Linked DNA regions of Homo sapiens. The protein of the gene in region 3 purifies or fractionates together with the protein of the main gene of each other region. This does not show direct contact. Each region holds a gene or a part of one and is shown on either strand. Other genes may lie near its edges. The genes, in order: KIF13B, RASGRF2, PANK2, DHX36 and QRICH2.

Region 1 (6,681 bases), on a different chromosome or scaffold from region 3:
GCCAATCTATTGGTGAGAGAAGCTAATTACATTGCTGAGGAGCTGGATAAAAGAACAGAATACAAAGTTACCCTACAGATTCCAGCCTCCAGCCTGGATGCCAACAGGAAGGTGAGGTTGCCGTTCCTTGAAAAAAACAAAGATCTCATTGGATAAGATCGCCTGATATTTCCTGGTGTTATTTAAGCTTCAGATCCCTGTCTGTGCCTGCCCCAAGTCCAGATCCTTTGTCCTCCATGCTTTTGGGTAGAATTGACTTCCTTTTCCATTCTCTACCTTTGAGTGTATGTATATTTTATCTGCTAGGGGAATATACTCTGCATCTCACCTGGCCCTGACAGTTCATTTCACTCAACTTTCTTCCTTCAAATCTGTTTAAATTCTTTCTTAGAAGTCTTTTCTGATTAATCTTCCCCGAATGTCTTTTTTTCCTTCCTTATGCTACCACTCTACAACCCCTTCTCCACAAGTTAGGTGTTCATTTTGCTTATGTTATTTTCTACTTGGAATAGCTTGCTCTGTAAAACTGCTCATTAGTTGTGTCATGGTGTCATGTATATATTCAGGATCATACTTTTTTTGGTATAATAAATTTAATAAAATGTAGGGGGAAAGTCCCATCACAATCTTCTATCTTTGCCATTCAGTTGGGTTTTTTTCCTTCATCTTTTTTTTTTTTTTTTGAGGTTCTTTTCTAGCTCTTGATCACATTCATACATAATTTTTGATGGATTAGGTAGAATTTTCTATTCAGATGAATTTTTTGTGGATCCGTGTGTTCTGTTTAGCCTGCGGTAGTCAACACAGCAAAACTTTAATCAATCCATCTTGGATATTCTATTTTTCTTTTTTTTGTTTGAGAGGGAGTCTTACTCTGTCACCCAGGCTGGAATGCAGTGGTGTGATCCTGGGTCACTGCAGCATCTGCCTCCTGGGTTCAAGCGATTCTCCTGCCTCAGCCTCCTCAGTATCTGGGATTACAGGTGTGTGCCACCACGCTGGACTAATTTTTGTATTTTTAGTAGAGATGGGGTTTTGCTGTGTTGGCCAGGCTGGTCTCAAACTCCTGACCTCAAGTGATCCACCTGCTTTGGCCTCCCAAAGTGCTGGGATTACAGGCGGATATTATTCTAATTTGATAGCAAGGATTACATCTTTCCCTATGACATCATAGCATCAAGGTCAGCGTTTTGTACAGGGTTAGATATTTGGCAAATATGATTCTTAGTATTTTGAGAAAGGTATTGTAAATATGATATGATCGTTACTTTACAGATCATTGTTTTTGTATACTCTGTGTGTATTTTGAAAATTTTTACTTAATTAGAACACTAGTATTTGTAGGGCAAAGTCTGGGTACAGTAGGACTCACCAAAAACCGAAGAGGAAGGCCAGTCACAAGGAGAAGGTTCAGGGCCTAGTTTCTCCTTGAAGGCTGAGAAGTACAAGATCCTCTTTGATTTTATAGTGTATAAGTTGAAAAAAGCAGAAACCTGAAAGATTTTTCCCCAGTAAGCATGACCGCAGCCCTTTTCTCCGTAACCTCTTTTGGGCTTTGTTGAAAGGTGTGGCTCTGCACTGGGGCAGCCATGTCAACGCCTGGAAGAACTCATGTCGCCTGGCATCTCTCCTTAGTTAGGCTGACTCTGTAGTCTTTCGTGCAACAGACTATTTTTTGGTATTTGAAAAGTTGTTTAAAGTCCTGTCCATTCTGTGAACTCTTCTCTGGTGAATTTTTTTCTTATTTCCAGTTTTGCAAGAGGGCTAAGTTATGGTAGCTGCACCATATTGCCCGTTGCTATTATAGTCCCAGGTCCAGCATTCTCCCCCAGGAAAGCCACTACCCACACAGGTCACAAATGGGATTTTTGTATTTATTCACTGGCTGGCTGAATATAAGGTAGGAGGGCCTTTAATTTTGACTGTAAGATGGCCGGGCATGGTGGCTCATGCCTGTAATCCCAGCACTTTGGGAGGACAAGGTGGGCGGATCACCTGAGGTCAGGAGTTCGAGACCAGCCTGGCCAATATGATGAAACCCCATCTCTATTAAAAATACAAAAATCAGCCAGGCGTGGTGGCAGGCGCCTGTAATCCCAGCTGCTTGGGGGGCTGAGGCAGGAGAATCACTTGAACCCAGGCGGAGGTTGCAGTGAGCCGAGATTGGGCCACTGCACCCCAGCCTGGGCGACAGAAAGAGACTCTGTCTCAATTAAAAAAAAACACACACACGCATTTTGACCGTAAGAATTCTCAAATGTTTGTTTTATTATTTAAATTTTTTTCTTAGAAAATGATTGTAGGCAAGATGTTAATGAAACATCAATGTATTTCAAAGTTCTCTTCAGTTTTAAGTAGAACATTTGAAAAATTAAGCCAGTAAACCTAAATTGATTAGATAACCAGTAGATATGTCTCCCTCGGGGAAATGTATAGGGGCTTTTTTTTTTTTAACTTTGTGGTTTTTTAAAAGTTCTAAAATTTTTTCTACATTAAAAACACATTGCTCAAGTTCTACTCTGAAAAAAATCCACATTGCTCTTATAAGCTGGAAAAACTTCAGAGCATACTTTTTTTGGGGGGGAGGTGTGATACTTGCATAATAGAACATTACTTTTTTTTAATTTTATTATTATTATTTTTTTTGAGACAGAGTCTTGCTTTGTTGCCCAGGCTGGAGTGCAGTGGCGCGATCTCGGCTCACTGCAACCTCCTCTTGGGTTCAAGCGATTCTTCTGCCTCAGCCTCCTGAATAGCTGGGACTACAGGCGCCCACCACCATGCCTGGCTAATTTTTGTATTTTTAGTAGAGACGGGGTTTCACCATATTGGCCAGGCTGGTCTCAAACTCCTGACCTTGTGATCTGCCTGCCTTGGCCTCCCAAAGTGCTGGGATTACAGGCGTGAGCCACCACACCTGGCCAAACATTACTATTTTAAAGTGAATAACTCAGTGGCATTTGGCACGGTAATAATGTGGTGTGAGCACCGCTTCCATCTAGTTCTGTATGATCTTAATAAGAAACCCAAACAATGCATATTTGGAAACTGGTATCATTAATTGCTTCCACGTGGGTGAATCGGGGACTTTTCAGTTTACTCTTTTAAGTGTTTCATGTTTTATACCCCCTGAAGATGCCATCCATTACAATAAAACAAAATTCAGCCTCTGAGAGGGACGTTTCTTCCCCATACACCGCAGCAAACTTTCCCTCTCTCCCCATTGATAACGTTGTGGTCATATGGTGGCCTGAATAAAATACTTTTATTTCAACTTGCTGTTAAATGTGGTCTTTTGGGTTTTAAACTTAAAATCATTTCCAACTACAGTCAAAATTTAAATGTGGTGGCTCATGCCTATAATCCCTGTGCTTTGGGAGGCTGAAGCAGGGGGATCACTTGAGGCCAGGAGTTCCAAACCAGCCTTGGCCATATAGCAAGACCCTGTCTCTATGCAAAACAGACAAAATTAGCTGGGTGTATTGGCATGCACCTGTGGTCCTAACTACTTGGGAGGCTGAGGCAGGAGTATCACTGGAGCCCAGGAGTTCGAGGCTGCAGTGAGCTATGACGTGCCACTGCACTCCAGCCTGGGTGACAGAGTGAGATGCTGTCTCTTTACACACACACACATGTATATATTTATTTATTTTTGAGAGTCTCATACTGTCACCTAGGCTGGAGTGCAGTGGCAAGACTTCAGCTCACTGCAACCTCTGCCTCCTGGGTTCAAGCAATTCTTGTGCTTCAGCCTCCCAAGTAGCTGGCATTACAGGCACGTGCCACCACACCCGGCTAATTTTTGTATTTTTAGTAGAGAGGGGTTTCACCATGTTGGCCAGGCTGGTCTTGAACTCCTGACCTCAAGTTATCCACCTGCCTTGGCCTCCCAAAGTGCTGGGATTACAGGCGTGAACCACCATGCCCAGCAACTCCCCCCAAAAAATTTTTAATGTAAGTTTATACTTAAAGTGAAGTTTATAAATAGGTTTTGATTGCACTTGGGTAGGAAGGTATTATGTTATAGCTTGTAAGACTTTTTGGAGGCTTTGTAATCAACAGATTAAAGGATGATTGCCATTTGAGTTTTGGTGTAATGACATTTGACTGATGGGGGTGGAATTGTCAGCTTTGACTTCCCCGCTGCCTGTGTGTTTCTCACGGTCATTCTTACTCTCTTTGCAGCGAGGCTCTCTTCTTAGTGAGCCTGCAATCCAGGTGAGAAGAAAAGGAAAAGGAAAGCAGATTTGGTCTTTGGAAAAACTGGACAACAGGCTGTTGGATATGAGAGACCTTTATCAGGAGTGGAAAGAGTGTGAAGAAGATAACCCAGTAAGTTATTTAAGAGAAAATCACTTAATTGGTAATTATGGAAGGAGCCAAGCTGGAATGAGTCTACCCATTTCAGGGGAAAATTGTTCTTTTTCCAAAATTATAATCCTATTTCTGGAGTAAGGTTTATTTTAATCCCCTAAATTGTTTAGCAAATTAACAATTTTAATAATCTCTCTTTCTGGTATCTTCTTTTTTCTTCTCATTTCTGTCTTTTAGATTTCTAGCAGAATTCTCCACTTTCCATTCTGACTTCTGTTGGTGTGCGGGTGTCTGTCTCCTGTGCTCTCTGGGAACCTCTTTAGGACAGAGGCCAGGCCTCATTATTTGTCTCTCCTCCCATTGCTCAACCCGTTTAACCTTGCAGATAATAAACCTACAATATATGTTTTGTAAGTTGAACATCGGTGGTATCTTAATATTTACACTCCAAGGAGCATTTTTGAAGAAGTTTTGATCATAACATAAATGCCATAAATCTATACATTGGTACTCTGTCCTTAACTTGCAGGTTTTCTTACTTAGATCAGCCATGTACTCATACGTATTTAAAATAGAAGTGCATATTATGTATGTCTGAACATATTTTCATTACCGTTAGACCTGTTTCCGCATAGAGTTGTTTACTTCCTTTGCCTTTTGTTTTGTAAAAATGATTTTTCCAGATTGTTATCAATAAAAATGTTTCTTATAGTTAGGTGATGTTTTTGCTTAAAACATGTTTGTCTCTTTGGTACCCCTCTCCTATTTCAACTTAGAAATAAAACAACAGTAATAAATAATGAAAGAGCCACTCCCATAGGGGCTCACCTTTTTTTTTTTTTAGATGGAGTCTTGCTCTGTCATCCAGGCTGGAGTGCAGTGGCACGATCTTGGCTCACTGCCTCCTCTGCCTCCTGGGTTCAAGTGATTTTCCTGCCTCAGCCTCCCGAGTAGCTGGGATTACAGGCGCCCACCACCACACCTGGCTAATTTTTGTATTTTTATTAGAGACGGGATTTCACCATGTTGGGCAGGCTGGTCTCAAACTCTTGACCTCAGGTGACCCGCCTGCCTTGGCCTCCCAAAGTGCTGGGATTATAGGTGTGAGGGCTCACCTTTTATTAGCAGCAGTTTTATCTGATGACTTGCTAGGAATAAGCAGAGCAGATAAGAATTACTGTCTTTCCCAAAAGAAAGGTGAAGTGTAGTTTAGCACACTCTACTTCTTTTTCTGGTCAACATATATTGTTTATTTTGTGGCAAAATTTCCATGTAAAGGAGAATAGCTGATAAAAGTAATGACCTGTTACTGGGATCGCTCTGTCATGGGTGGAGGATGCTCACCTCCATTGTGAATGGGAATGAGGAAGAGTGTGTATGGGAGTAATACAGCGCTGTGCTTTAGCAAAAACTTTAGAATGTTTTACTCTAAAAAATACAAGAGTTAGGATGATGAAAGTTAAGTTTAATAACCTAGAGTGCATCAAAAAGCAGTAGGTTGAATGCATTTATTGTAAATGGTTTTTCTGAAGTTGTGTGTTCTCAATCTCTTTACAGGTAATACGATCATACTTCAAACGTGCTGATCCATTCTATGATGAGCAGGAAAATCACAGTCTCATTGGGGTGGCCAATGTCTTCCTCGAGTCACTTTTCTATGATGTGAAGTTACAATACGCTGTTCCCATCATCAACCAGAAAGGAGAGGTTGGTTTTCTCTTCATGCCTTGTTTCCTGTAGAGAATAGTTTAAGAAACAAGAGGGTGGTGATGGGATATTGTTGCTATTTTTTGTCAGTAACGTGTCTTATTAATACCTTGTGTTTCCAAGGACTCTTAGGGTAGAGTAACTGTCAGAGACTAGGCCTCTAAATTCCCATACACCATTAACCTGACAACTTGACTGTAAAAGAGAAGAGAGGTCATCTCAAGGGAGCACGAACCAAATCTGGAGAAATGTTTCTGCCTTCCCTCATTGCTGCAGGTGGCAGGTCGGCTGCACGTGGAGGTGATGCGACTCAGTGGTGATGTTGGGGAGAGGATCGCAGGAGGCGATGAGGTGGCAGAGGTCTCCTTTGAGAAGGAGACCCAGGAGAACAAACTGGTGTGCATGGTAAGTCCCAGCTTCATCCTAGTATTACGTTGATACAAAAGTCATTGCAGTTTTTGCCATTACTTTTAATGGCAAAAATCACAATTACTTTTGCACCAACCTAATAGCTGATTTTGAGAACTGCAGGTCTTTAGATGGTAAGTATTATGTTCCTTTTCAAATTTTGGAAGTAGAGCAGAGCCTCCCCCACTCATGATAATGCAAAATCGCCTCCTCCATTTCCAAACACCCGCTAGTGAGCCAGACCTGCTGGTG
Region 2 (6,681 bases), on a different chromosome or scaffold from region 3:
TAAATTAGAGTGGGACATCGTTTTCACTTATCGGATTGACAAAAATTTAAAAGATTGATAATATCAAACATTGCTTAGGGTATAGGAAAACAGGTACTGTCATGTACTGTAGGTGCGGAAGCTTTGCAGGTCATTTTCCATCATCATTTAAAATTAAAAATTGGTATATTGAATTACTGGAACTCTTACCATTGTTGGTGAGAATAAAATCGAACAATCACTTTGCAAAACTGTGCCATTTAGAAGTTTCTTAAAATGTTAAATGAGCACTTATCTTAGGACCTAGCAATTTCTCTCTTAGGTGTTTATCCAAAGGGAAAATGAAAGCATGCTCATTAAAAGCCTTGTATAAAATGTTCATAACATTTCTAAATAATAGCCCCTATTTGGGAAGAGCTCAAGTGTCCATCAACAGATGAATGGATAAACAAATTATGGTATATCTCTACAATGGACTACTACTCAGCCATGAGAGGGAGCAGACTACTGGTACAGGCCACAGCAAGGCTGAATCTCAAAACACTATGCTGAGTGAAAGAAACCACACATGAAGGAGTACACACTGTATGATCCCATCGATATGAGGTTCCAAAATAGACAGAACTAATATGTGGTGATAGAAACCAGGGCAGTGCTTGATTCCAAGAGCAGATTGACCGAGTAGGTGCATGAAGGAACTTTTGGGGATGCTGAAATTGTTATCATGAAATGTATGTAAGTTACATGGTGTATACATGTCAAAACAGATCAAACTATCTATTTCACTTTTGTGTGTTATATTTCAATAAAACTAAAGAAATATTTTCATGAAAATCCCCCATGCCCCAACATATTCATTTCTAGTGTCAATTCCTTTCCTTTCACTTCTGATATCTACCCTAGCCTAGCAGAGTATTCACGCATGCACTCCAGGAAGCATGCTAACAAGGAATTCACTGAAACTTTGTGTAACAGTGAAGTATTGACAGCAACTCAACATCTATCAATATGAGATTATTAAATAAGCTCCAATATATTGCACTATTAATACTGTATAGCAGTTAGAGCTCTATCTACTGTCACAGGGAGCTCTCTCCAACCTATCATTAAGAGATGAAAGCAGAATAAAATGTGCACCATGGTGCCAATTTTAGGGGGAAAAATGATTTCTGTAAGTACATGTAATCTCTATAAAGACATAGAAAAACAACTGGGAGAAAACAAACCAATTAGTAACAGTAGTTCCTCTTGAGGGAGGTACCTGGGATTGGGGGTTGAGAGAGGACTAGAGATGTTCACCTTTTTTTTTTTTTTTTTAACAATGGAAACATATTTATGATTTTTTGGTCAAATAAGATTTTTAGTTGTTTAAGAGAAAATGTTGAATTGTGTTAGATTCCGTCAGAAAATGTACGCACTGGTGTCTGAAAGAGGTAAAAGCTGGGACTTCCCCTTTTTTTTCAGGTCGCACAGTACTTGCTTGACAAAGACCTTATCATAGATGAAGATACGCTATATGAGCTGTCACTAAAAATTGAACCTCGACTCCCTGCTTGAAGATCTGGCCTTGCCCCTGAGTCCACGGGATGTTCATGGAAAGCAGGACAGACAGAATTGTGTATGCCTTGCCTATCACGGTACAGCACGAAGCCAGGCTCCTTTCTCCACCAAAGAAGATGGAACCAGACTGGAATTCTGTCTCCAGAGAGAAACCCAGCTGTTTGGGTCAAAGACAGATGCTTCAGACTTGGGTGGGAAGGTGAAAGATGGCTATTTAGAAAGCTGGTGGCACGTTTTACATAAGGGAATGTCAGATGGGAGATGCTAGTTGCCATTTTAACAAAGCAGGTAAATCGGTAAATTTTAAACTCTGTCCATGTTCTGTTAGAACTCAGGGACAAGGATCCATGAAAAAGACCTGTGATGTTTCTCTGGCGCTTTACTGGCCTGGGCACACCTACCAATCTTCTAGGATTTGACTGGTTCCATTACATTTCCTTTTGGTATAAGCTTCACAGAAAAGCTGACACTTCCTCTACAGAGATGGACCAAAACATAAGCAATTTCAGTCTACAGCATGTGCATGGTTGTCAGTGCATTCTAAATATTTCTATGTGAGGAATGGTACCTTCTGAAACTGCCTTTCCAGTCTTTAGGCAATGGGATAGGAAAGAAAGAATGAAACACAAATGGATTTGTATGTAACATTTCCTTAATTAAATGCAGTAGGCTGTGCCCCAGAGGATTCCAGACAGTGGCTGGCTGAGGTGGGTGGGGAGCTTTTCCTTGAGACTGTTGGTCCTAAGAAGCCAGCCCTTTTGGAGAGGCAGCTGCAAAAAGGTGCACGCCCATCTCACCGACAAAACTGTGGAACAGAAGGCCACCAAGTGCTGTGGGGAATCATGGGTTTCAGTGCTGAGTGAAAATCTATACCTAAAAATCATCTCTGCACCTTGCTTTGTTTGTTTTCTTTCCCCACTCATAGTACTGCAGGAATCTATTCTCATTTACACAGACCTTTTTTTAGGCTTACTATGAACATTGGCTGTATTTTTTTTAAACAGTTTAGTGAAATTTTCTTTTCAAAACCCACACTTCCATATGCTGTTCGTAGATCTCTTTCTTTAAAAACTGATGTTGAGAGATCTCTGAGAATATTATAAGTGCATGGGAAATGGGCCCAACCACCGAACAGCTCTTACATTACAAAACCAAATGCAAGGGTTAGTCCTGCTACCTGAGGCTGGGGAAGTGACCTTCCTTTTCCCAAGATTGTCAGTTGTTGAAGAAATAGGGCTATCTCATTGTTTACCTCCCTCTTCTCTTCTCAGGGAGACTGCTGCTTTAAAAGAAGGAAGAGAAAAAATATAGTTCTATTTCCCTGAACCTGTTGCACCTGACATTTTCTCTTAGCAGCATGAAACTTATTGATGCTGACAATGAAAAATGGATCTGTCTGGCTGCTTTCCCTCTTTCCTTGCACTTTAATTATGTTGCTAGAGCTAACAGACTAATAAATTCCACCTGCTGGCTCTTAAGACTCAGTGAAAGAGCTAGCATTGGTAATGCACCATAGAGGTAGAGAATGTACACTTTCTGCACGGTAAGTGCCATCTCTGTATGTAACTATATAGTGAAATATCAACTAAGTAAAAGAAAATATAATATTTGAAGACCATTCCCAAAATATTTTCAATAGTTCATATTAGCCAACAGTGTAGCACTCAACCCAAGGAGGGTTCCTTATGGATGCTTTCTTTTTCTTTTTTAAAGTTGCTTGTTTGTTCTCTTTAGTTTCAAATAAGAGGTTGACGCATCTTGATGCATGATGAGAAGCATGGGCTGTTTGGATCCTAACAACGCATAACTTGTGATTTATTTCTCAGTGCTCCAGAAACTGAGGGTTTGAAATAATATGTATCAGTTGCACCAAACACCTCAAGGTCTTGCAGAAGAAAAGTAAAGGTTAGCTTTCATGGCTCAAAAGCATAGTCCTGAAGGGTGAACTAAAACCGGGACAAATCTGTGAGAGGACCACACACATACTAGTTTCGGGCCAAACAACACGTGGAAAGGTGCATGCATTCTACTCTGCCTTGGAGTTGCCAGAGTCCTTCAGAGGGAAAGGGATGGTTCTGTGTGCACTTTTTCTGGAAGTTCGGACTCATTTCTTTGACCCAAATGTTCCAGAGACACTGCAGCCATTCTTATTAACAAAAAATAAGACAGGAGTTTCCAAATGCTCCTTCCCTTTTGGATCGCAGCTTTTCTTCAACTAGTGACAAAGCTTTTGCGCCTATTTCCTGCAGGATGTTGGAACTGCCCCGCACTGGTCATATTAGGCACTGTCAATTGCTATGCTGACTTTTAGGGGGTTTTTGTTTGTTTGAAAAACAGGGTCTCACCATGTTGCCCAGGCTGGTCTCGAACTCCTGGACTCAAGCAATCTTCCTGCCTCAGCCTCTCAAGCAGCTGGGACTGCAGGGGTGTGCCACTCACTAGCCTTTCGCATTTTTGTTTGAGAATTACACCACTTTCTGGAGTCTGCAGCCTTCCTGGAGCTGCAAGAGGGCAAGAGAGAGAGCTCCACCTCTGAGGGAGTGTCTGTTGATGACCTGCACTATTCGTGTGCCAGCTGGGAGAGGAATGCACATTTTAAAATCCCTTCAATTTGGTCAAATTAAAAATCCCCAAGAGCAATTTGCAGTGTTTTTTCTGGTCGTTAAAGTACCCATCCTCTTCTGCCTACACACAAAGCATGCATTCCCAGCTGCATCTGCCTCTAGTCCATTATGGAGACCCATTTCTAAGAGGAGATGGGAGGTCAACCTCTAACAGCCAAGTAGCGAACATGTATACTGTAAAATTAACCTAGAAAATCAGAAGAAAAATCCAATTTCATGCTTTCGAATGAATGCCCACATTTTGTACTGTCAACGAAATTATCTTGGAGCTTTTAGGGGATGCCTTTTCGTTATTAACTGAGACATCTAGTTTTGCTACAGGGACAAATCTCTTACCTAATCCAATATATTATTTGACAGATTCAGGCATGAAGTAAAACGTCGTCACTTTTCCTTAGTGCTTTTCTGAAGGAATTTAAAGACGGAATTTTAAACGGCCATTGCAATATTTTCAAGTGGCTCTCATACCAAGTCCCATTACTGTTTGTTAAATTTCAGTACGTCTTAAAGTACTACTTATAAACAAATGAAACTCAGAGAAACTGAATCACCTGGAAGAGAAAAATCCATTATGGTCCCATGTGGAGTGAATAATGATGGATCAGCACCCTTTCTCTCATGTTATTGTATAAGACGAGACTTTTGGGCCAGCAGCGATTGGGCAGCTTTTAAATTCTTAACTGAAAAGAGTAATGCAATACAGGGATTATTCCCAATAAAATTAACTTTTATTTAAAAGCAAGAGATTTTACTTAGCTTTTTTTTTTCAAAGTTTGATTTTATCCCCTTGAAAAAAAATCTCTTCACTTTAAAGTATAAAGGTTTTTAAAAATCCAATTGCAAAATGTATTATTTTTACAACTATCGAAAAGGCATAAAAGAGAACATACTATTTATGGCTGAAGGGTATAGCCAGGCTAATGTGCACAGAGGGAATCAATAAATAAAACTCTTTTTCATTTCAGTAAGAAATCAGATTGTAAGTTTAATGGCTCCATTATAGATACCACCGTGTAATAGAAGACTTAAGTCAATGAAATCTAATCAGTGTGTCATTTCTCAGCGGCCATTGGTGACTTAAAATTAAGATGAGGCAGAGCCAAAATGGAAAACAGTCATTTTGTTGTAGGTATAAACACATGAACGATTCAGAAAATTATTCATCTCAGCTGCCATGCAGCATGACATTAACATTAGGATTGATAGCACTAGTCTGATCTGCTCAAGGAAAATAATAGTTCTATTATACTTAATGATGTTGGTTTTTACACAGCTCATTTCATTTTTCACTAGAAAGCCAGTTATGAAAGAGAGCTGGCCTAGGCATCCCGGCCCTGAGTCCTAGGCCCAGTCTCCAACTGGAAAACCTTAGGCTGGTGTTTACACATCCCTGAGCCTCAGTTTCCTCATCTGCAAAACGGTGTGAATAGTAATCCCTGTGCTGCTTATCTCACAGGGCTATTGTGAGGACCAAATGGATTAGACTGTAAACTGCAAAGTGCTGTCCGCACATGAGGTCATCTGATTACTGTCCTCAGATCTCTTTTGTAGAGGATTTCAATGTATTTCTTTATCATTTGAGTGTGTGTGTGATGGACGAATATGTGTGTGAGTTTGAGAAGCATATCGTTCGTGTCCAGTTACTTTGCAAATTTGTGGACATTTGTGATTGGACAGAGGGGTTTGTGCTGTGGCCTAACACTTGCCAAGTGAGGTGTAGGTTATGCCTATATGCAAATTAAACTTCACCTTTCTTGAATATTCAGAAATCTCACTGGTTTCTTCATTTAACTCTTTTTCCCCCCATTTTTCTACATTGTCAACTTAAAACCATGAAATGTATACATTTAGAAAAAATAGAACTTAATTTCTTATAAAGGGTTACAATCTGCAGGCTGGAGCCTCTGGCCAAAGCCAAAAGCAAGCACTTCAGATAAAAAAGGGAGAGGCTGAGATTTATGCCCAACAAGATGAGCCTTACATATACATTTAGTAGGTTATAGGATAATCTTATGAATATTTATGAGAGGCCCTAATGCATGCATAGCCAGTAATCATATATGTTACATGTTACATACAACCCATGTTCACTTTGGGATGGAGACTTAAAATGTAGTAAAATTGGGCTCTATATGTCAAAAGATGGAACACAGGGCACAAAGACGCTTGGTGTGCAATCTCTGTAAACCGGCCAGAACCGGCTGTGGTCTGTGGTCAGTTATGAGGATGGAGTGCTTTGTAAGGCTGAACACTTGTCAGGGGGAAACTGCGTTGAGGGAAGGGGGGGTTCGCCACGTCAGGTTGTCTGTTGAAGTTGAGGAAGAAATCTTCCAGACATAGTTTTTCAGTAACTGGTTTTAGTTTAATTTTAGGAAAGAAAGTCTTGAGGCAGTTATCGAGGTGGGAGAGCGTTGGGTGTGACTGACCTCTTGCCTTGCCAAAGCTGTAGAATCTGGTTTTTAATGTTTCCTGGGGTCTCTTTTTACCACAATGAGTCTGTTTTGTTTTGCTTGGGGGC
Region 3 (7,286 bases):
ATTCTGGTGTATACAACCAGAAAGTTGGCTTCTCTCTAGGGGTAAATAACCGGAGAGTGATAAAGAACTTAGTTCTCACTATAATAACCACAGAGAAAGGATGCCTCTTGTTAGGTTCATTTTACTTTTTTTTTTTTTTTTGAGACGAGTCTTGCTCTGTCACCCAGGCTGGAGTGCAGTGGCGTGACCTTGGCTCACTGCAAGCTCTGCCTCCCAGGTTCATGCCATTCTCCTGCCTCAGCCTCCCGAGTAGCTGGGACTACAGGTGCCTGCCACCATGCCTGGCTAATTTTTTGTATTTTTAGTAGAGATGGGATTTCACCGTGTTAGCCAGGATGGTCTCGACCTCCTGACCTCGTGATCTGCCCACCTCGGCCTCCCAACGTGCTGGGATTACAGGCGTGAGCCACCGCGCCTGGCCTCATTTTTTTTGAAAAAAAATAAAAAATAAAAAATAAAAAAATCTAAGCTTAATCATAGATTTACCTTACTCTGCTCCAAGGCAATTTTTCAACTTTTTAAAAAATAAATGTTTTCTTTCAGTATAATACCCAAAAAAGTGCACAAAATGTCTTGATAACATATTACAAAGGGAACACACCCATGTAACCCCCACCCAGATCAAAGAAACAGAATATCATTAGCCATCTAGAAGCCCATTTGGTCATCTTCATTTTCTTTTTTTTTTTTTTTTTGAGGCAGAGTCCCACTCTGTTGCCCAGGCTGGAGTGCAGTGGTGCAATCTCAGCTCACTGCAACCTCTGCATCCCAGGTTCAAGCAGTTCTTCTGCCTCAGCTTCTGGAGTAAGTGGGATTACAGGCACGCACCACTACGCCCAGCTAAGTTTTGTATTTTTAGTAGAGACAGGGTTTCACCATGTTGGGCCAGGCTGGTCTGAAACTCCTGACCTCCAGTGATCCGCCCGCCTCAGCCTCCCAAAGTGCTTGGATTACAGGCATGAGCCACTGTGCCTGGCCTAATTTTTTTTATTTTTTATTTTTTGTAGAAGTGGTCTCGAACTTGTGGTGTGCCTTCTTATTTATTTATTCATTTTTTTTTAGAGACGGAGTCTCACTGTCTCCCAGGCTGGAGTGCAGTGGCACGATCTCGGCTCACTGCAACCTCCGCCTACCGGATTCAAGTGACTCTCCTGCCTCAGCCTCCCAAGTAGCTGGGATTACAGGTGCCCACCACCACGCCCAACTAATTTTTGTGTTTGTTTTTTTTAGTAGAGACGGGGTTTCCCTGTGTTGGCCAGGCTGGTCTCGGACTCCTGACCTTGTGATTCGCACGCCTCGGCCTCCCAAAGTGCTGGGATTACAGGAGTTGAGCCACTGCGCCCGGCCGCTTTCTTTTGGTTATCATAAGGCGGGCAGTAGCTGAACTTCTCAGGAGTCCAAGCTCTGTCATTCTTTAGGCTTTGTGCTTCTGGATAAGTTACCTCATCATCCAAATGTTACTGCAAGGACTAAGTGAGATGTAGAGGCAGTGGGCAAATTGTGTAAAAATACTACTGTTTCAAGTGTTTTGATGTTGGAGTTCATCTTGCCAGCCAAGGGATGATGATACTTTGATTCTTCAGGATGATCAGAGCTCAGACTTGGACGGAAGCTCCCTCAGGTCAAGGAGGACCACATTTTTTGGGGGGTGGAGAGAGGAGGCAGAAAGAGAGGCAATGTCAGGCACTGAGATTTAGAAGAGTAGCTATAGCTGTTTTTGGTTCTTGTAGATCCGTCTGTGTTGGCTTCCTACAGGAGCTAGAATTTTCAGAGCTAGTCCTACAGTGAGGGGAGCTAACGTGGAGTGGGCGTGAGAATTCTATTCAGCAAGCACAAGCGAAGCTCAACCTTTTTGTTCAGCCTGCTACAACCAATCATTATGGGAGAGGGGAATAAGGATCACTGCCCAAGGGGCATTAGGATCACTGCCCAGTGGGCATTACAGTCTCCCCAGGGAGGCACTCTTTTTTATTTTTTATTTTTTTTGAGACGGAGTTTCGCTCTTGTTGCACAATGTTGGGTCACTGCAGCCTCCGCCACCCGGGTTCAAGCAATTTTCCTGCCTCAGCTTCCCAAGTAGCTGGGATTATAGGCATGGGCCACCACGCCCCGCTAATACGGAGGCACTTTTAATTAGCCCACAGTCCAGTGAAATTTGACGGAGTGAGGAAGTGACCTCAGAGTACAGAACGGGATGGGATCCTTCCGGGCTTGGGCAGCCTTTGGTAGTGGGGATGCTTGGAAGGGTCAGGGTCTCAGTCCTGGAGGTGACCAATTTTTCTCTCCAAAAGAGAAAGGAAGATGATTAAAAAAAAAATCCATGCTCCAAAGCGGCAGCCAAATCCTTCTATGGCCCCCAATGCATCACCCAGAAAGGGGCTCCAGACTCTCCTGCAAAAGGCCAACTCTACTTCCCGGCTCCCACTTCCCCTCCTTCGCCACAGGAGGGTGGCGAAGGATTTATAACCCACCTCTTTCTTTCAGTTGCCATGGAGACAAGCCCCAGTCCTTTCATTCCTTCTGGTACCTCTCTCTCCAACGCAGGCGGAAAGGAGGCGGCTTAGCCCAAACATGCTGGGGGAGGGGCTGGCGGCCTCGACGGCAGCTGCGGAACTAGGCCGAGGGACAAAGGCTAAGGTCAGCCGCGGTTCAAGCCCTTTCGTCTGCCGACGACCAGCGGCCAGACGCTGCGGGAGCACTGCTGGGCTGGAGGAGGGCTCGAGCTGCGAGGACGGCACGGAGCAGCGGGGTGGGACTCGGGGTCGCCCCAGGAGAGTTCCGCGGCCCGGGGGGGCAGAGGCATGCACAAGTGGGGGGCGGAAGGAGGGGGTGGATGAGGAGGCTCGGGCCCTTCCACCCACGCGTCCATTGGGCGGCGCCGCCATCACTCTCTTCTGGGCTACACCGCCTTCTCTTCCTCCGCGGAACCCGGATCCCCTCCTCCACCACCCTCTCCCCGCCCCGTCACGATAGCCTCTCATTGGACGGAGGCACGGTCAATCCTCCTCGAGTTAGGGAGCCGACTGGACGCGAGGCCTTTGGGCCGTCCCCAGCCTCGTCGGATTGGCTTCCTGCGCGTTGGCGCAACGGAAGAGGCGGCCGGCCGAGGGCGCGCCTCTGCTCTGGCTGGACTGCCGCGGAGGAGGCGAGAAGGAATCCGACGCTGGGGGGCTTGCTCGGGCGGCAGCGACTGCTGCTGCGGATGGGAGGGGGCCGGCTCGGCGCGCCCATGGAGCGCCACGGCAGGGCTTCCGCCACCTCCGTCTCGTCGGCTGGGGAGCAGGCGGCCGGGGACCCCGAAGGGCGGCGGCAGGAGCCACTGCGGCGCCGGGCGAGCAGCGCGTCGGTGCCCGCGGTCGGGGCCTCGGCTGAGGGCACGAGGCGGGATCGACTGGGCTCTTACAGCGGCCCCACCTCGGTCTCCCGCCAGCGCGTCGAAAGCCTGAGGAAAAAGCGGCCGCGTAAGTGTTCCGTGGGGCGCCCTCCCGGCCCGCCCTGCCCCCCCTTCCGGCCCACCCTGTCCCCTTCCGGCCCCGCCGCCGTTTTTCCCGCGCGCGGACACTGTCCCCGCACGGTGGTCCCTCGTTGGTGCGTGGCCTGACATCCGGCTGGAGGCCTCGGGTGCTCCGAAAGCGGTACCTTCGGGGGCCCCCCCGCACCCATTGGTATGCACTTCCCGCTTGTTGGAGTGGAGGGCTTTTCCCCAGGACCTGTCCTCCCTTTTCTTAGCTCCTTGGGCATTCTCTTCCTGAGGGTCACATGATTTTATCCTCGAGAAGGCTTCTTTTGACTCATTTCCACCTCCTTTCCTCCCAAATCCTTTGAATCCCCAATGTTTGTTTTCCGTGGGTTTCCAAAGAGCTGCTCTCTAATACTTTAAGTCCCTTTTATTCGTCAATTTCGGGCTTACTGGAAAATGGTGAACTGCCCCTTGAGTTGCACCAGGCCTGAAACTGTATTCCGTGCACCTCTAAGGTGGCTGCCCTTCTTCTCGTGAGAATCCAGGTCATCTCTCACCCACATATCCCCTCCGTTTTCCTTCTGTCTATTTGCAGGTACTCACGATTCAGAACTGTGGCATTCTGGGCATTAAGGCTCTTTGTTTTGAGGGGAAACAACATCTTTCTGAATTTTGCCTTGGGAGTTGCATACGCTCCTCCCAGAGAATCCGTTTCCCCATTTTATTAGGTTTCTTTTTCTGTGTTGTGTATTTTCTCCCCTTTACAAGTCTTCAATTCAGGACCGCTGCCTGGCAGCCATTGCTGCTGTTGAAAGTATCAATTGTCCTGATACTGTAATATGAGCTTTACAGTGTGATGCCATTTTACATATGGTTGGACTTTTTGGTGGGTGTTGCCAGATTCCTATTTCAGGAAATTGACTTGTTTAAATGCAGATTGTGAGAGGGAGGGAAAATGGCAAGATGTGAGATTTTTATTGAATAGTCTTCTACCTTAGCCCAGTCACCCAACTGCTTTTTTGAATCTTCTCTGATATGGATGATTAAATGTAGTTCTATTTTGCTGTGAAAAGTTTGGGAGTTTTCAGTTCTTTTGTCTTTTTCCATCTTCTTGCAACAGATTTGGAAAACAGATTCTTAACCTGTGCCATTTTCAGAGTCAGTCACCTAGTTTTGTTTTATTTGAGAAGCACCTGAGTTTGAAGCAATGCAAAATATGAGATCCTTCATGGTTTTGTATTACATCGTTGGAAATGGATGTAAATTCCAAAGATTCAGCAAATAAGAGTATAGCCATTAGCCACAAGGGTTTTTTTGGTTTGTTTTTTGTTTTTTACTTTGAGACAGCGTCTTGTTCTGTTGCCCAGGCTGAAGTGCAGTGGCATGATCATGGCTCATTGTGGCCTTAACCTCCTGGGCTCAAGCCATCCTCCTGCTTCAACCTCCTGCATTGCTGGGACTAAAGGCACGTGCCACTATGCCAGGCTAATTTTTCAATTTTTATTTTTTTAAATAGAGATGGGATCTCTTATGTTGCCCAGGCTGGTCTTGAATTCCTCCTGGTCTCAAGCGATCTTCCCACTTCGGCCTCCCAAAGTGCTGGGATATAGACGGGAGCCATTGTGCCCGACCTGGCAGTCGTCTACTAAGAGCTTTGGTAACTCATTAGCCTCGTGGCTCTGAGGTAGGTGGTAGTATTCCATTTTACAGATGAGAAAACTGGGACACGTTTGCCCGGTCAAATGGCTAGTGCGTTGTGAAATAGAAATGTAAACTCAGAATTGCTAGCTTCATAGCTTTTGCGGTGGACCACTGTGTTTTTCTGAATTATTTACGTTCTGTTAGTTATTTCTTCATTGCTCTAAGACCAAGCATAAGTTTGATCTTTTGTGTTCAAGACTGACTTACTTGAGGCGAAAATTTTTAGATACTGTGGAAGTACTTCCAAATATTGAGCATGAGAATGACCTGGTAAAAGTGCAGATTCAGTGGGCCCAGTTAAGCTCCTCATATTCAAATACAGGTGACTCAAAGACCACACTCAGAAAAACCGGTTTACACTGGGTGGGGAGAATTATATTAAGGTAGTTTTGAAACTTATTTTAGGGAACTAAGTAGACACATATTCATGCTATAGGATTTATATTTTGTTTTGATGTTTGATGTTTGTCGTGATTCCCTTCATTATCTTCTCTGGCTGATAAATCATGAAAACCCATCTTTCCAGTATAAGACCTGCTAAAGGAATGAACAGGATACTGATTGTTCTTCCTTCCATTTGTTTCTTCTGTACTATCTAGGGGTGCCCCTGTTAGGTGGAGAAGCAGGCTGGGCGCAGTGGCTCATGCCTGTAATCCCAGCACTTTGGGAGGCCAAGGCGGGTGGATCACCTGAGGTCAGGAGTTCGAGACCAGAGACCAGCCTGGCCAGCATGTTGAAACCCCGTCTCTACTAAAAAATACAAAAATTAGCTGGGCGTGGTGGTGCATGCCTGTAATCCCAGCTACTCAGGAGGCTGAGGTGGGAGAAACATTTGAACCTGGGAGGTGGAGGTTGCAGTGAGCCGAAATTGTGCCAGTGCACTGCAGCCTGTATGATACAGTGAGACTCCTCAAAAAAAAAACAAAAAAAAAGGAGAAGCAGCTTGTTGACTGCCGAACCCTCCTAGAGTATACTTCAGTCTTATCTCTGAGAGAATTCAACTAAGACTAAATCTTTTTTATTTATTGTTGGGAGGTTTGGGTATGGAATGGTGCCACCTTTCTGGTGAAACCCTATCTCTACTAAAAATACAAAAAAATTAGCCGGGTGTGGTGACGCGTGCCCGTAGTCGCAGCTACTCGGGAGGCTGAGGCAGATAATTGCTTGAACCCGGGAGGCAGAGGTTGCAGTGATCGAAGATCGCGCCACTGCACTCCAGCCTGGGCGACAGAGCGACTCTGTCTCAAAAAAAAAAAAAAAAAAGCCTTACTCTGATACCGCACTACTTGTCTAAAGGTGCAGATAGATACTAGTTGTCATTTGAAAGTCGAAGGAGCTATTCAGGTTATCTTAGGCATTCTTGTGGTCCTGGTTGTAGTCGTGTTCTGTCACGCGTTTCCTAGAGCAGTGTAGTTCCCAAACCGGCCCTTGTCCCAGACTTACTGCATCAGAATCCCTAGCGATGAGGCTAGGCATGTGTATATTTAAGTTCTTCAAAAGTTTTGCATCAGGTGGGGAGGGGGGTATGTCTCGCAGGGCTGAAAGAAATACCAAATAAAGATTGATTTTAAAATGATGGAAACCAAGACGCTAATGATGGTAATGTAGCTACCATTTTCTGAGTGCTTATTTGTCTTGGACACTATGCCGAGTATTTTATAAGCATCTTGGTTAAGTCTCATAGCTATCCTGTGAGGTAGGTGTTTTTTATCCCCAATTTCCAGATGAGAAAACAGGCTCAGTGAAATTGTCCTTTTGTCCAAGGCCATATAGTGAGTTAGTGATGGAGTTGGGTTTTGATTCCTGGTGTCTTGACTTCAGATCCAGTGTTCTTGGTCCACATTTTGGGGTGGGGGAAGGTATGTGTGATGTAATCCAGAGCTGTGGTTCTCAAGTTTTTAAAACTTTCCCTCAACCTACCATTGCATGATATAGGTCTGCAAAGGGGTCTAAAATTATATTTTAAATTTTATTGAGGCATAATTAAATAGAGTAAAATGTACAATTTTGGCAAATGTAGACACTCATGTAACAAGAGAACATACATTTTTATCAAGGGCTCCAGGTGTTGAGCATATGTGCAGCAGGTGTGCAGAAGGTGTGGAAGCCCTGTGATCAGAGTGCT
Region 4 (3,500 bases), on a different chromosome or scaffold from region 3:
AGAGCAAGGCACAGTAGGGTTCGATTTCTGTTCCTGTCCCCACATTCTAGTTGCTATTTTGATGATTCAAACTGAGAATTTTTGCTAACACTACTAAAATCTGTTGAAAAGTATCAAATAGGATAGATATCTGTAAGTTTTCTGGTTTAGTATAGTGAAACACCACAGGCAAGCATTTGTAAAACAGAAGAAAACAGTAAAGAGGGCATATGCCATCACATTTCAGACTACACTGAACTGGGTATTCGAAGCCAGTGAGAATAGAAATATCCTCATCTTCTCCCAGTACACATACACTCCAGCTATGTGACATGAGGCCTGATACTGGACATTTAACAGATCTACAAATTAGTAAACAAAAAAATCTAACATACCAAATCAGAAGTGCCCAGTCATTAGCAAAATGGAAAAAAAGGATCACCACAATTCGGAAGGAAAGGAAAAGAAAAAAAAAAGAGTGGAATGCCATGTTTCAGTAGAAAACACCTTTAAACTGTTTCATAATATGGAATAGCTAATAAGAATATGAATTCAGCAAAACATAGGTTAGAAAATAAACAGTAGAGTGAATGAAAAGACACCTGAGCTAAGAAAACAAATTGAAGATCAAAAGAAATCACAAGGAACAGAATGGACACCCCTTAAAAACAAGTTATTGCCATAGGAAAAAAGCTTGAAGTAATCACAGTTTATGGAGGTACCTGAAAAAGACAAAAATTAAAGCAATAAGTAAAATCTTAAAGACAGGAAGACAGGACTCATCCATTATGAGAACAGTAGACATTAGTGTCTGCATACAAATCCTGTGTAATTGAACGTTTATTTTGAGATGTATGTAAGAACACGTTTTGAAATGGAAATAATGAAATGAACAGAGAAGTGAACAGAAGCATGAAAACATAACTGAATCCAAGTGTTTGAGAATGTCATGTCCAGTCAGGATATGAATTCAGGTGTAAAGAAAAACAACAGGCATTCAAGAAATACTGTACCCCTGAGCTCTTCTTGAAAAGCCCATTGACGGTGAAATGCTGTTAGTTAAAAGGGGAATCACAGTGGAGATTTCAGGAATGGAGAGTGCATGCTTAATCAGCTGGTGTATATACATTAGAAGTATTTAAATATAGAGCTAATAACAAAATGGTGTTAGGAATTACACATGCAAAATAGAATGTAAAGATTATTATCCTGAACAGTATAAAATAATGGCAGTAAAAACCAGGAGGTGTCTAAGAAAGTCAGGTGTCAGAAAAATTAGGTGGGGAAAGTCACACCTTTCATAAAAGGGATATATACTTAAATATAACCAACTTTATGTTTCATAATCTCTAAAAGGAATTCCTTAGGAAATATTTCTGTTATGAAAATACAAGATTCATCTGGTCATTCACTTTCCTTTCTATTTAACTTTTCTTTAAATTGTACTAAAGTTAATTGTTTTATAAAGAATTTCTATACTATGATTCTGTTATTAGGATGCATTTCTTCTATCAGTATATATACTTAATGGGTGTCTGCAATCTTATTTATTTAGAAGACTGAGTATTGAGGCAAGGGAAGTACTTTTCTATGTTACTTGAATGCTTTGTAATAAGCCATGTATCATTATTTAAAAAAAAAACAAAACCTTAAGCTTACCTGCCATTTTTAACCATATTTAATTCTCAGTAATAGAAATATGGATGTGGATTATTTTCTTTATGCTTTTCTATATTTTTTAAAAAATGGGGGTGGAAAGTAATTTTAAAAATTCTATTAGTCTTTCACAAAATAGAGTAATCCTTAAACATCAGTGGCTATTCCTTACAACATGCAAACTTTTTCTGTGAAAAGTCGGGTAATATTTTAGGCTTACAGGCCATAAGATCTCAGTTACAAGCATTGACCTCTGCCATTGTAGTGCAAAAACAACCAAATGTAGATGAATGGGTGTGGCTGTGTTCCAATAAAATGTTATTGACAAAAACAGCTTTTGTAGTTTGCCAACCCTTGCTTTAAAACATGTTTGCTAAAGTGTTTTCATAAAGCAGGGATAGCTTACAACTCAATTTATCTATTAGTGTATGGTTTATAGCCTCAATGTGTGAAAGGTATTCTAGTTCTATTTGTTACCATTGCTCCCTAGATGCTGCATAACATGAAAGGACAGTTTGCTGAGCATCTTCTTGGAGCTGGATTTGTAAGCAGTAGAAATCCTAAAGATCCAGAATCTAATATAAATTCAGGTACAGCAGGAAACACAGTGTAAATAAGTATCTTTTGTCTATTGTATCAGTATTTTACTTTTCTTTTCCCCTCTACCTTCTCACCCCCCATAGATAATGAGAAGATAATTAAAGCTGTCATCTGTGCTGGTTTATATCCCAAAGTTGCTAAAATTCGACTAAATTTGGGTAAAAAAAGAAAAATGTAAGCATTGAAGATTATTATTAATTACTCGTAATTCTCTTCTTAAACTTTTGAAATCTGCTCATGTAACAAGGCTTATATTATAAATTTGTTCTTATTCATATGTGGGTTATATTCTTGTTCTTTTAATCATTTCAGAGAAGGTGAACTGTTTAGCCATTGGTATCACTTTCCCTCACAACACATCCTGGAATCACCTCTTTGATAACCCATTATTCACAAAGAATGCTACCACATGATACCAGTGTAAATATTAGAAGAGCCAGCCTGCTAGTAAATACCAGTGGCTGGATAAAAATTGCTTAGAGTAGATTTTATTTCAGAAACTTTTTTCCTCTTGCCTTATAAATGGATAACTTAGCTCTTTGAATAACATTGTGATTTCACTATTTTGAGAAATAAAGTGTAATAATATATTTACAGGTAGCCTCAGTAGTAATTGGAGACAACAGTGAAGCATGAGCTAGAATGAGCTCATTCTAGCTAAAGGATACAGAGAAACTAAGAGTCACAAATGGCCAGTAGTGTGGTTGCTGCTATTTTGGAAGACACTCTGTATTAGAATTATGATTGAATCATTAAAATAGTCAGTGACCCAGTGCATGAGTTTTTAATTTGATAGATGTGTCTTAAGGAAGTAATTTCAAATGTTTTCTAACAGCTATATTGTAAATAATATAGATTTCTAGTAGCCATGGGAAAATTGTGGTTTTATAATACTGTAATGCATCTCCATAGGTGGGCATTAAAACAGTCATTGTGTAGTAACATGTAAAGTATTTAAACTGATGTTAAATGAAAGTTGGATATTCTAGAATTATAAACATGAAAAAATAAAGACTTTAAAGATAGGCCAAAGTGCAGACATTGTTCTTGGGCAGTGGTTCTCAACTGGCATGATTTTGCCCCCAAAGGGGACATTGGAAAGTGTCTGGAGATACTTGTGGTTGTCATAACAGTGTGTCAGTAGTACTAAAGTCAAGAAACCCTATTCCAAGGTATAAAGTAATGGGTAGCTGATGAATTTTAATCATTGTGGTTGGATTATTCACATTTTAAGTGACCTAAGTACTTTTTCAAAATAATACTTG
Region 5 (6,681 bases), on a different chromosome or scaffold from region 3:
ATCATCCATTTCAGGTGGTGGCACACCAAGCTGACCCATGCTGAGGGGTACCACACCATGTGGGTAAGTGCTAGCAGGCACTAATCCAGGCTGATTCATGCCAGTTGGTTCTAACCCACGACGATCTGGCCTTAGATGGACCTGACTCTGGCTAGCGGGCACACTACTGGGCTGGTCTCTGGCCAAGGGTAAGTCCTGTTGAACTGGACCAGGACGTGCATTTCTTCTTGGTTGTGTCGAGGTAAGCTTCTCTCTACTCCTGTGACGATCTGAGTCTGATTTGAATTGGAATGTAGAAGACTGATGGAGTCGTGGCACGCCAGCTTCATCACGGGCCCTCGGCTGCTGCTGTCTCCCAGTACCAGAGGGGACCTTGCTTTGTTCCCTACTGGAAACCCCATCAGAGGGGTGTGCTGTGCCACCAGATCCTGATGCAGTCCGATCCGGGCCAAGACCACTGGCAGAATCCAGAGCCTGCTCAATACTTGGTTGCTTGGTAGAGTCTCCGCTTAGAGTCCCTTCAGGTGATGTTAAGGAAGTGAACCCTCCGTGCTTAGAAAATCCCATAAGTGTTTCTGAGCCCTGGTTGGAGAGGAAGAAGGAAATCAATAACAGTCAAAATATTCACTATCAGAGTGGGAAGAAAGGAAATCTGGAAGTTCTGACTAGGATGATTTAGGGCCCCTGGAGAAAAAAGCCCTCTGGTCCTAAAAGCTAAGCTTGACATAAAGAAACACACTGATGGGAGGCCGAGGCGGGTGGATTACTTGAGATCAGGAGTTCGAGACCAGCCTGACCAATATGGTGAAACCCTATCTCTACTAAAAATACAAAATTAGCCAGGCGTGGTGGCATGTGTCTGTAATCTCAGCTACTCAGGAAGCTGAGGCAGGAGAATTGCTTGAACCTGGGAGATGGAGGTTGCCGTGAGATTGTGCCATTGTGCTCCAGCCTGGGTGACAAGAGTGAAACTCCATCTCAAAAAAAAGAAAAGGAAAAGAAACACACTGACGTTCTGGGAGGCTAGGTCTCCATATTTTTGAGACTCTGCATATTTGAAAATGGCATGTACAAAAATATGTAATTTTTGTGGCCAGGTGCGGTGGCTTATGCTTATAGTCCCAGCACTTTGGGAGGCCAAGGCGGGTGGATCATTTGAGGTCAGGACTTTGAGACCTGCCTGGCCAACATGGCAAAACCCCATCTCTACTGAAAATACAAAAATTAGCTGGGTGTGATAGTGCATGCCTGTAATCCCAGCTACTCAGGAGACTGAGGCAGGAGAATCGCTTGAACCCGGGAGGTGGAGGTTGCAGTGAGCCGAGATTGCACCATTGCACTCCAGCCTGGGTGACAGAGTGAGACTCCTTCTCAAAAAAAAAAAAAAAAGTGTAATTTTTCTTCATAAAAGATGGGGAAAACTGCAAAATACAAGTGATCTCTCTGGACTTTTGCTTAGCCTTTAAATAAAGGACATAAGTAATTTATTAAGTTTAAAATATAAAGTCTGGGTCTGGCACGGTGGCTCATGCCTGTAATCCCAGCACTTTGGGAGGCCGAGGTGGGCAGATCACAAGGTCAAGAGATTGAGACCATCCTGGCCAACATGATGAAACCCCGTCTCTACTAAAAACAAATAAATAAATAAATAAATAAATAAATAAATAAAATTAGCTGGGTGTGGTGGCACGTGCCTGTCGTCCCAGCTACTTGGGAGGACAAGTCATGAGAATCGCCTGAACCCAGGAGGCAGAGGTTACAGTGAGCTGAGATCGCACCACTGCACTTCAGCCTGGGTGACAGAGCAAGACTCCATCTCAAAAAATAAATAAATAAAATAAAATAAAATATAAAGTTTGCTCCATTGTTGACCCATTGCTGCTGATAAAAGTGTATACTGGAATGCATGTAAACCATATATTTAAAATGTATAGGCTGGGCACAGTGGCTCACGCCTGTCATCCCAGCATTTTGGGAGACCAAGGCAGGTGGATCATTTGAGGTCAGGAGTTCAAGACCAGCTTGGCCAACATGGTGAAACCTGGTCTCTACTAAAAATATAAAATATTAGCCAGGTGTGGTACTGCACACCTGTAATCCCAGCTACTCAGGAGAATCACTTGAACCCAAAAGGCAGAGGATGCAGTGAGCCGAGATCACGCCACTGCACTCCAGCCTGTGCAACAGAGCGAGACACCATCTCAAAAAGAAATAAATAAATAAAATGTAAACATGCAAACCCATGGACCCAGAAACTCCATAGACAGGAATTTTCTCTATGAATCCTCACCAAAGGATGCCAAGCTATACATACAATGATGGGGTCTGCAGCATCTTGATAAAATAGATCATCAATAAGGGACTGAGATATTTCTGGTCACCAATACAGTAGATGCTATGAATCCATGAAAAAGAAGAATGAACCACTGCCATTTCCAGCCAAGATGAAGTTAACAGGGGCTGGATTTACCCTCCTGTCTGTGACAAGAAAAAACAAAACTGAGGCTGGGCGCAGTGGCTCACGCCTGTAATCCCAGCACTTTGGGAGTCCGATGTGGGTGGATCATGAGGTCAGGAGTTCAAGACCAGCCTGACCAACATGGTGAAACCCCGTCTCTACTAAAAATACAAAAACTAGCTGGGTGTGGTGGCACATGCCTGTAATCCCAGCTACTTAGGAGGCTGAGGCAGGAGAATTGCTTGAACCCAGAAGTCGGAGGTTGCAGTGAGCCGAGATAGCACCATTGCACTCCAGCCTGGGAGACAGAGTGAGACTCTATCTCAAAAAAACAAACAAACCCAACAACAGCTATGAAACGGTGGTTTCCTACATACTGGATATCAAGTTATGAAGGACAATAATCCCCAAGCGGTGGAGAAAGGAAAACTGGGAAGCCTGTATCACCCTGGCTTGCTGCCTTGCTGGAGTTTCCAGACTGCAGTGCAGGGAGGGGGAATTGAGGTGGAGTCTGGCAGACTCTCTGAGTTGAGGAGACAGAAGTGAGCATTCAGGGAGATTCAGGCAACTGAAGGTCACAGGATAGAGTATCAGAAAGAAGGGAGTTATCCAGGCGTGGTGGCTCATGCCTGTAATCCCAGAACTTTCAGTGGGTGGATTACCCGAGGTTAGCAGTTTGAGACCAGCCTGGCCAACAAGGCGAAACCCCATCTCTACTAAAAATACAAAAGTTAGCCAGGCACAGTGGCACATGCTTGTAGTCGCAGCTACTTGGGAGGCTGAGGCAGGAGAATCACTTGAACCCAGGAGGCGGAGGTTGCAGTGAGCTGAGATCACACCACTGCACTCCGGCCTGGGCAACAGAGCATGGCTCTGTCTCAAAAAAAAAAAAAAAAAAAAATAACCAGAAAGAAGGGAGATGACAGAAAGCCCACTCCCACTCCAGAGGTCTGTGGAGGATCCCCTCCGAGTGATGAGCACGCATTTGATGAGTACATGCATGTGGGGAGACGTCCCAAGATTGGGGAAAGAACCACCTGCAGGGCTTGAAGAAGCAGTGCCCTGCCTGCCATGGGGCTGGAAATGGTGCCTGTTCTTATCAACCAGTTTGGAAAAACTCATCATTCAAGTAGCACAGAGCAGAGTGTACTCAGAAAAGTGTTGCCTCAGAAATGGAGAATAATCAGCCCTAGACTGAACACACCTATGGACCCACCTAACAAATCATAAAATCATAAAAGCAAGGCCTGAAGCAATCAAACTGTTTTTAAGTAGCTGTGTCCTGGGGGAAACAGGCTCAATAAAATGTATAAGAATACAAAAATATGGCCGGGTGTGGTGTCCCACACCGGTAATCCCAACACTTTGGGAGGCCAACGCGGGAGGATCACCTGAGTGCAGGAGTTCGGAACCAGCCTGGCCAACATGGTGAAACCCCGTCTCTACTAAAAATACAAAAATTAGCCAGGCATGGTGGCACACACCTGTAATCCCAGCTACTCAGGAGGCTGAGGCAGGAGAATCGCTTGAACCCAGGAGGCGGAGATTGCAGTGAGCAGAGATTGTGCCACTGCACTCCGGCCTGGGCGACACAGCAAGACTCCATCTCAAAAGAAAAAAAAAATACAAAAATATGTACCATCCAATGCAGGAAAAGTCACAATGGCTGGCACCTGATCAAAGATTGCCAGGCATACAAAGAGGCAGGAAGACATGACCCATAATGAGGAGATAACTCAACCAACTGAGACCAACTCAACACTGGCATATGTGTTAGAATTAGCAGAGATGGATATTAAAACAGTTATTATGGCTACACACACACAAGCACACACTTTAGAGACAGGGTCTCACTCTGTCACTCAGTCTGGAGTGCAGTGGCATGATCACAGCTCACTGCAACCTTTAACTCCTGGGCTCAAGCAATCTTCCCCCTTCAGCCTCCCAAGTAGCTAGGACTACTTAGGAATCTGTTTTTTTTTTTTTTTTTTTTTTTTTTGAGACAGAGTCTTGCTGTGTCACCCAGGCTGGAGTGCAGTGGCACAATCTCAGCTCACTGAAACCTCCGCCTCCAAGTTTCCAGTGCCTCAGCCTCCTGAGTAGATGGGATCACAGGCACGCACCACCATGCCCGGCTAATTTTTTGAATTTTTCAGTAAAGATGGGGTTTCACCATGTAGGCCAGGCTGGTCTTGAACTCCTGACTTCAGGTGATCCATCCACCTCAGCCTCCCAAAGTGCTGGGATTACAGGCATGAGCCACGCTGCCTGGCTTTCTGGCTAATTTTTTTTTTTTTTTTTTTTGAGACGGAGTCTCACTCTGTCACCCAGGCTGGAGTGCAGTGGTGCAATGTCGGCTCACTGCAAGCTCCACCTCCCGGCGCCATTCTCCTGCCTCAGCCTCCCGAGTAGCTGGGACTACAGGCGCCCACCACCACGCCCGGATAATTTTTTTGTATTTTTAGTAGAGACGGGGTTTCACCGTGTTAGCCAGGATGGTCTTGATCTCCTGACCTGGTGATCCGCCCGCCTCAGCCTCCCAAAGTGCTGGGATTACAGGCATGAGCCACTGCCCCCGGCCACGTGACCTTTTAAAAACTTTTTGTAGAGACGGGGTCTTAATATGTTGCCTAGGCTGGTCTCAAACTCCTGGCCTCAAGCACTTCTCCCGCCTTGACTTTAAGTACTGGAATTAAAGGCGTGAGCAACCATGTCTGACCTCTTTGTCTTTTTTTTAAGACAGAGTCTCGCTCTGTCGCCCAGGCTGGAGTTCAGTGGCGCGATCTCGGCTCACTGCAACCTCTGCCTCCCGGGTTCAAGCGATTCTCCTGCCTCGGCCTCCCGAGTAGCTGGGATTACAGGCGCATGCCACCACGCCCGGCTAATTTTTATATTTTTAGTAGAGATGGGGCTTCACCATATTGGTCAGGCTGGTCTCAAATTCCCGACCTCAAGTGATCCGTCTGCCTCGGCTTCCCAAAGTGCTGGAATTATAGGTGTGAGCCACAGCGCCCGGCCCTGAGTGTAGTTTTTATTTGCTTTTGTAGCTTTTCAAACTTTCTTTACAGTCTGTCCTGAAATGCAGGGATCTTTCCTTATTAGTGGGCCATGGTGACAGACCCTGGAAATAAAACTTCTGTAGGGGGCCCTCTGCTGATGGCAACTTTTGCACACAGGCATGCATCTGTCTGTCTTGAGACAGTGTACAGATGACCAAATTGTTTTCCGATCGCCAACCTACCTTCACCTGAATAAAATCAAGCTGAATATGTTCAAATGGCCCTCAAAGATGAGGCTTAACTTCCCTTTTGGTCTTGACATCCCTCCCGCTGGCTTTGGGCTAGTGGGTTATCAAAACAAGCAAGCCAACTTTGAGGGCCATTTGAAAATGTAGACGGAAGCAGGGTGAAGAGTAAAGCTTTTGGCGCCACCAAGTGGCCATCTTGGGGAGCGCCAAATATCTGGGTACAAAAGACAACCTGGGATCTCCAGGACCATTTTCTGATTTCAGGGCTCATTCTCAGAGGAAAGCGGCATCAGAAAGATGTTGCAAGAGGGGCCGGGCGCGGTGGCTCCAGCCTGTAATCCTAGCACTTTGGGAAGCCGAGGCGGGCGGATCACCTGAGGTCAGAAGTTCGAGCCCAGCCTGGACAACATGGTGAAACCCTGTCCCTAGTAAAAATACAAAAATTAGCTGGGCGTGATGGTGGGCGCCTGTAATCTCAGCTACTCGGGAGACTGAGGCAGGAGAATCATTTGAACCCAGGAGGTGAACGTTGCAGTGAGCCAAGATTGCGCCACTGCACTCCAGCATGGGCGACAAAGCAAGACTGTCTCAAAAAACAAAACTAAACGATATTGCAAGAGGACCCTGAACACAAAAGGAATGGACTAGAAAAAAGTGGCCTCCACTTTCACTTTTTTAAAGCCAAACCTTTTTTTTTTTTGAGACGGAGTTTCGCTCTTGTTGCCCAGGCTGGAGTGCAGTGATGCGATCTCGGCTCACTGCAACCTCCGCCTTCCGGTGGTTTCAAGCGAGTCTCCTGCCTCAGCCTCCCGAATAGCTGGGACTACAGGCACACACCACCACGCCCAGCTAACTTTTTGTATTTTTAGTAGAGACGGGGTTTCACCATGTTGGTCAGGATGGTCTCGATCTCTTGACCTTGTGATCTGCCTGCCTCGGCCTCCCAAAGTGCTGGAATTACAGGCGTGAGCCACCG

What was found.
Region 1: the proteins of PANK2 (region 3) and KIF13B purify together in Homo sapiens (affinity purification with mass spectrometry, with the first as the bait; one large-scale study listed by BioGRID). This does not show direct contact.
Region 2: the proteins of PANK2 (region 3) and RASGRF2 purify together in Homo sapiens (affinity purification with mass spectrometry; one large-scale study listed by BioGRID and IntAct). This does not show direct contact.
Region 4: the proteins of PANK2 (region 3) and DHX36 purify together in Homo sapiens (affinity purification with mass spectrometry; one large-scale study listed by BioGRID and IntAct). This does not show direct contact.
Region 5: the proteins of PANK2 (region 3) and QRICH2 purify together in Homo sapiens (affinity purification with mass spectrometry; one large-scale study listed by BioGRID and IntAct). This does not show direct contact.

What each region holds. Positions count from the first base shown.
Region 1 is NC_000008.11:29,139,808-29,146,488, reverse strand, and holds part of KIF13B (kinesin-like protein KIF13B), read left to right. Parts: coding exon 1-111; intron 112-4,185; coding exon 4,186-4,332; intron 4,333-5,871; coding exon 5,872-6,021; intron 6,022-6,297; coding exon 6,298-6,426; intron 6,427-6,681. UniProt on the Homo sapiens protein: Involved in reorganization of the cortical cytoskeleton. Regulates axon formation by promoting the formation of extra axons. May be functionally important for the intracellular trafficking of MAGUKs and associated protein complexes.
Region 2 is NC_000005.10:81,224,235-81,230,915, forward strand, and holds the end of RASGRF2 (ras-specific guanine nucleotide-releasing factor 2), read left to right. Parts: intron 1-1,443; coding exon 1,444-1,536; 3' UTR 1,537-5,928; downstream 5,929-6,681.
Region 3 is NC_000020.11:3,886,268-3,893,553, forward strand, and holds the start of PANK2 (pantothenate kinase 2, mitochondrial isoform 7 precursor), read left to right. Parts: upstream 1-3,163; coding exon 3,164-3,461; intron 3,462-3,548; exon of another isoform or gene 3,549-3,665; intron 3,666-4,976; exon of another isoform or gene 4,977-5,144; intron 5,145-7,286.
Region 4 is NC_000003.12:154,279,488-154,282,987, reverse strand, and holds part of DHX36 (ATP-dependent DNA/RNA helicase DHX36), read left to right. Parts: intron 1-2,125; coding exon 2,126-2,225; intron 2,226-2,318; coding exon 2,319-2,409; intron 2,410-3,500.
Region 5 is NC_000017.11:76,293,440-76,300,120, forward strand, and holds part of QRICH2 (glutamine-rich protein 2), read right to left. Parts: intron 1,984-6,681; exon of another isoform or gene 583-1,983; coding exon 1-582. UniProt on the Homo sapiens protein: Has an essential role in the formation of sperm flagella and flagellar structure maintainance. It acts as a suppressor of ubiquitination and degradation of proteins involved in flagellar development and motility.